2 separate regions of the Homo sapiens genome follow, and region 2 is linked to region 1. The links come from fine-mapping of genetic effects on gene expression. A gene starts in region 1. The other region holds a variant in brackets. All regions are shown on one strand. Distances are from middle to middle. Region 1 holds the start of PHTF2 (putative homeodomain transcription factor 2). Region 2 overlaps APTR (Alu-mediated CDKN1A/p21 transcriptional regulator).

Region 1 (2,909 bases):
CACGAAAACTCTCCACCTCACTAACACCTAACTTAAAACTATCAGATGCATTCAGACAGCCAGTCTGTGTGGGAGGCAGGCTATTTCTGGGGCAAAAATATTTCCTGGAACCACTGTTTCTGGCCCCAGACATGGCTCATTCTCCGCAGACCTCCAGATTCCTCTCCTCTACGTTATGGAGGTGGAGCCACTACAACTGATAACGCATATCCATTTCCTTCTCTTAAAATTTGCAGTCCATACACCATATCCAAGTTAGGATTTCAAATTGTTATACTGTTTTGTGACTCTTTAGGCTAAAGTGTGCAGTTTCCAGACTTTCAGAATTCCCCTTCCAATATTAAAAATATGGTGAAAAAAGCCCAGTTTGAAAGAAAATAAACTTTACAAAAATACCTGAAAACAAGATCAAATACTAAGTCTCTTGCCAAAGTCTTGGAGAAAAAAAAAATGAAAGAAACGTTTAAAAATGGCAAAAGCTAACCAAAAACCTTAAGATTAAAGTATCACACCTGAAAAGTAGTCTCAAAGCAAGGAGGATATACTATTAACAAAGAAAGCAACCGAAAACTACAAAATATTTAATATTCACCATGAATTTCAAAATTACTTGGCATGTAAAGTACACACTGAGATTAATAAATTGTTCCAGATTCTGCACTGCCCAGGTTAGTATAAGGCAGTTCCTTGTTTTCGCCACGCTAAAAATAAGAAGGGTGACAGATTAGTGACAGAATGATCCCTGAAGTTACACAAGGAGGTGCTGAGTTAGAAAGCCATGACTCGAAGGACAATACCAGAATGCTGGCTGTCAACACTGGGCAGATAAAAATAAGAAAAGCTGAAGCATGCTGATGGAGCACGGTATTGTTTCCAGACGGGAACTATCCCTTAAGGCCCATGCCTTAAGCACCCACTCCGCCGTGTTGGGATCAGAAAACTCGACTGCCGCCTGCTCAGAGGGGGCAGGGCAGCGACCCTCCTTCCACCTCCTCCAGCGCGCGAGCCGCCGCCCCCTCCCGAGCCCGCTCCTCCGGCCGCTAGCTGACATCTCCCCGCCAGCCGGGCTAGCCACCCGAGACCCCTGAACGCCCTTCCAGGACCCGACGACCCCTCAGCACAGCGCCAAGGGAAGGAAGCAAAGGACAGGGGCCTGGAAGCGGGGCCCGAGGGGCGGGTGGCGCGCTGGGCTTCGGCCCGTCACCATCAAGACTTGAGGACCGCGCGAGCTCGGGAGGAAGGCGGCTGAGCCTCCGCCACCGGCCGACTGATGAGAAGGGGTCGCGGCTGACCCCGGCCCTCAGGTACGGGAGACTGCCGGGAAAGTCGCCGGCGACGGAGGGCGACGCGTTGGCCCCGGAGCCCCCACCTCCATCCCGACGACCGCTCTCCTCCCTCGTCCCGATCCATCCTCGAAATTCTGTCAGAACTCGACGACCTCCACACTGCCCACCCGAGCGCGGAGGTGATGCCGCTCTTACCGTAGGAGCGAGCGCCGCGCCGCTAGGAGGCGGCTGAGGTGCGCGCGGGAGACTCCGAAGCTAGCGCCGCCGCCAACAGAGCCCAAGGAGCCACAACGAGGCTGCCCGCGGGCGCGCTGCCTCCAGAGGGTTGCCCCACCCCCTCTCCCGCAGGATTTTGCGCCGGAGCCTGCAGTCACTGCGCGCGGGCAGGGAGGATGGGAGGAGGGGCGGGGCGTCCCGAGAGGGCGGAGCTGAGCGCCGGCTGCTCTGATTAACATCTGTGGGCCCAATGGGAGCACGGAAACTCCAGGCTGATCTTGGACTGACTTCCCTACTAACCCGTGACAGTAGAGAGGCGGGACCAATGGGTCTTTTTATTGCCGCCTTTCTGTCGAACCCGAAAGTAAGGAAAGGTCGGTTGGTTTGCACTGGCGGACAAATGGTCCAATTACCGCGGAAAAGGGACCTCTGAATCCAGATTGGCGTCCTCTCTACCTATAGGGTAGGCTCAGGGGCGGTGAGAACCAGCCCCGGATGTGGGCGCGGCACTGAGGTAGAACTGAGAGATCCTCTACCGCAGTCGTTTGAGGAGGCGGAACTGAAGTTTTTTCTTAATTATCATGTGACGGGTTCTGGATTTAATGGGGGGAAAAGGGCGGAAAAGGACAAGGATCCAAACTGGCGAATTTGCTGATCTTCGCGTCCCTCTCCGCTTTCCGGCCGGCAGCGCTGCCAGGTGAGTCTGGGGCTCTGCCCTAGCCCGCACCGTACGCCGGCGCTGGTCTCCTGATGCTTCCGTGGGCTGTGCGGCCGACCCTCAACCCATCACACAGCCAGCCCCAAACGCGCACACGCCTGCTTGGCTCCAGGGCTTCTGTGCGCATCCAGCAGGAACCGTGTTAAACTCCAGCATGTGCTGGGCTTACAGCCCATGAAAGGGGAGCGTCCCGGTGGGGCGCCGCGAGCCGACTGTCGGTGTTTGCAGAAGGGCAAGTATAGTTTAGGAGCGTCCTGAAGTTCCAGGGGCAAATAGGCCCCCAGATGAGCTAAGTTGTAAGCAGAACGCTGTTCCTTTGGCCAAGGCTGTTGCTGCACGGGCTTTTCAAAAGCGACTCATTATGAAGAAGAATAAATATGTGGGCTCATGAAGCAAAATTATCTTTGGGATGAGGCAGGTTCACTTGGTAGACTACTGGCAGTGGCGAGAGAAGGGAAATGGGGGCTGATACCCAGCCGTGGGCTATGTGGGTGGGGCTCTATATATGTCCATACAGGGGTAACTCCGAAGGTTTTAAAAATGAGTAAGGAATCATTAACAAATATTTAACTGTCTTCCTAGTGCCAGAAATAACCACCTTAAATGGGAAACATTTTAGTTGAGCACATTTTTGGAGTACGCACCTCCCCCTTTCTTGTGGAGAGAATAGTAGGAAACATAACGACTGC
Region 2 (2,909 bases), 110 kb after region 1:
ATACAAAAATTAGCTGGGCATGGTGGCACGTCCTTGTAGTCCAGCTACTCGGGAGGCTGTGGTAGAGAATCGCTTGAATCTGGGAGACGGAGGTTGCAGCGAGCCAAGATCACGCCACTGCACTCCAGCCTGGGCGACAGAATGAGACTCTGTCTCAAAAAAAAAAAAAAAACGAAAACGAAAAAACCTGGATCTGACCATCTCTCTTGCCTTGCTTCAGACCTGAAGTCAATGGCTTTCATTGCTCTCGGGACAAAAAACAAAATCCTTAATGTGTCCTGTAAGACCTTTCATGAACTATCCCCTTCTTCTATTTCAAACTAACAGGTCTTTAATCTCCAGAACCCACCATGTTGTCTTTCAACATAGAAACATTGCATATGTGATTCTCTCTACTTGACGTGCTTTTTCCTTTGGCTGTTGCCTATGTGATGATTTGGATAATGAACATAAGGGAGGCAGATATCATGAATACCTTCTATATTTCTAACCAGCAAAACTTGGCAGTGGTACCATTCCCTGAGCCAAGAAACAGTGGAAGAGTGACAAGTTTCAGGTACTCTTGGACCTTGGACCTGTTGAACGCGACGTGCCTTTTCTCATCTCCATTCCTTTTTGCTTTTCAGTCGTTGGTGTTGTTGACTCACTGGTTATCTCTTGCTTCCTTTTCCATTTCATTCTCTGTAACAGCTCTACCGAAAGCATACTACCCTACCTACCCTACACCCTGCTTCTCCACCTTTTTTTTTTCTTTTTTCTTTTTTTTTTTTTTTTTTTTGAGGTCAGGTCTCAGCTCTATCACCCAGGCTACAGTGCAGTGGCAGCTTCACAGCTCGCTGCAGCCTTGACCTCCTGGGCTCAAGCATTCCCCCCACCTCAGCCTCCCGAGTAGCTGGGACTAAGGCATTTGCCACCATACCTAGCTAATTTTTGTATTTTTGTAGAGACAGGGTTTCGCCATGTTGTTGCCCAGGCTGGTCGAGAACTCCTGGGCTCAAACACTCTGACCACCACGGTCTCCCAAAGTGCTGGGATTACAGACATGAGCCAGCATAGCCAGCCGAAACTGGGTCTTTTATAAAGAACAGAAATTTATTTTGTCACAATTCTAGGGGCTGGGAGCCCAAGATCACGGCACTGGCAGGTTCATTTGTTTGATATGGGCCACATCCTCCTGAGGGGAGGAACATATTGGCCTCACATGGTAGAAGGCAGCAGGCTGAAGGCTTCATGAGGCCTCTATTATCTTATTTATTTTGAGACAGAATTTTTTTTTTTTTTTTTTTTTGGAGACGGAATCTGTCTCTGACGCCCAGGCTGGAGTGCAGTGGTGCGATCTCAGCTCACTGCAAGCTCCGCCTCCCGGGTTCACGCCATTCTCCTGCCTCAGCCTCCCGAGTAGCTGGGACTACAGGCGCCCGCCACTACGCCCGGCTAATTTTTGTATTTTTAGTAGAGACAGGGTTTCACCGTGTTAGCCAGGATGGTCTCGATCTCCTGACCTCGTGATCCGCCCACCTCGGCCTCCCAAAGTGCTGGGATTACAGGCGTGAGCCACCACGCCCGGCCTGACAGAATCTTGTTTTGTCGCCCAGGCTGGAGTGCAGTGGCGCAACTGCAGCCTCGACCTCCTGGACTAAAGTGATCCTACCACCTCAGCCTCCCAGGTAGCTAGGACTTCAGACACTCGCCATAACTCCCAGCTAATTTTTGCTTATGTTTTGTAGAGATGGGGCCTCACTGTGTTACCCAGGCTGGTCACAAACTCCTGGGCTCAAGCGATCCACTTGCCCATGAAGCCTCTTGTAATCCCATAAACCTCATTCACAAGAGAGCAACCC[C/T]TCTGGCCTAAACACGTCTTAAAGGCCCCACATCTTAATACCATTACATTGGCCATTAAGTTTCAACACCTGAATTTTGGAGGGGACACATTGAAACCATAGCAATGGGTAAAAAATAATAAGTCAGAGTCAGGTTGAATGTGAGATCACAGGAAGTGGAGGGTACTATAGAAAACTGGGAATATGATGTGTTTTCTACAATATACATTTGTGTTTCTCAGCTCTCGCTGCTCGTTCCCTTATGGAAATAGTGGTCCTACTTGCTAAATATATAGATTTTTTAATGGGAAGTTTCCTAAAACACCATGCAAGCCAAACAAACATCTGTGAGTCAGTTATAACCCACAGACTAGCAGGCTGACTTCTGATCTAGAAAGGAGTAGCTTCGTTTTGTTAAGATCGTTTTGAGAGTTTTGTTTATTTTAATTCACAACCCTGTCTTTGTCCGTTGCTGGAATAGATGCTAATCGAATATATTCAAACTTCCAGCCATAACAAATGTGTGTTCGCAGTGCTTAGAGCTGTCCTCTGTACAACCTAGAATCTGGTTTCTCTGCACGTGACATCCTTCTGCCTTTCTGAGCTGAACTGTATTTTCACTCTGCACATGTACTATCCCTCTGGCCTTGTCCAGGTTCCTGATCCCCTTGTATAAAGAAAGCAGTTATTTGACCCTTGTACTTTATGCAGCCATGTACTAACCTTAAAGACATTTCTGGCCAGGTGCAGTGGCTCACGCCTGTAATCCCAGCACTTTGGAAGGCCGAGGCAGGTAGATCATAAGGTCAGGAGTTTGAGACCAGCCTGGCCAACAAGGTGAAACCTCATCTCTCCTAAAAATATGAAAAAATTAGCCAGGCGTGGTGGCACATGCCTGTAGTCCCAACTACTCCAGAGGCTGAGGCAGGAGAATCGCTTGAACTTGGGAGGCGGAGGTTACAGCCAGGCAAGACTGTGCCATTGCACTCTAGCCTGGGTGACAGGGTGAGATTCCGTCTCAAAACAAACAAACAAAAAAGGACATTTCTTCTGTCCTTATGGCATAGATATCTCAAAGCTCTACCTCCA

The links. PIP is the estimated chance that this variant, and not a neighbour inherited with it, causes the effect.
Region 2: its variant is the best candidate, but not a certain one, in a credible set for the expression of PHTF2 in whole blood (TOPMed, PIP 0.86).

The regions. Positions count from the first base shown.
Region 1 is chr7:77,797,544-77,800,452 of GRCh38, reverse strand. PHTF2 (putative homeodomain transcription factor 2) reads right to left here and starts at 1,680. Exons shown (of 19, transcript NM_001395272.1): 1 at 1,482-1,680. It overlaps TMEM60 (transmembrane protein 60), which reads left to right and starts at 2,019. Exons shown (of 2, transcript NM_032936.4): 1 at 2,019-2,199. RefSeq lists a silencer at 1,600-1,739 and an enhancer at 2,150-2,259.
Region 2 is chr7:77,690,004-77,692,912 of GRCh38, reverse strand. All of the region lies in intron 1 of APTR (Alu-mediated CDKN1A/p21 transcriptional regulator), which reads left to right. Among named protein-coding and RNA genes, the nearest start is that of APTR, 4.8 kb to the left of the region's middle. RefSeq lists an enhancer at 346-845. The variant C/T (reference allele first, on the strand shown) is at 1,842.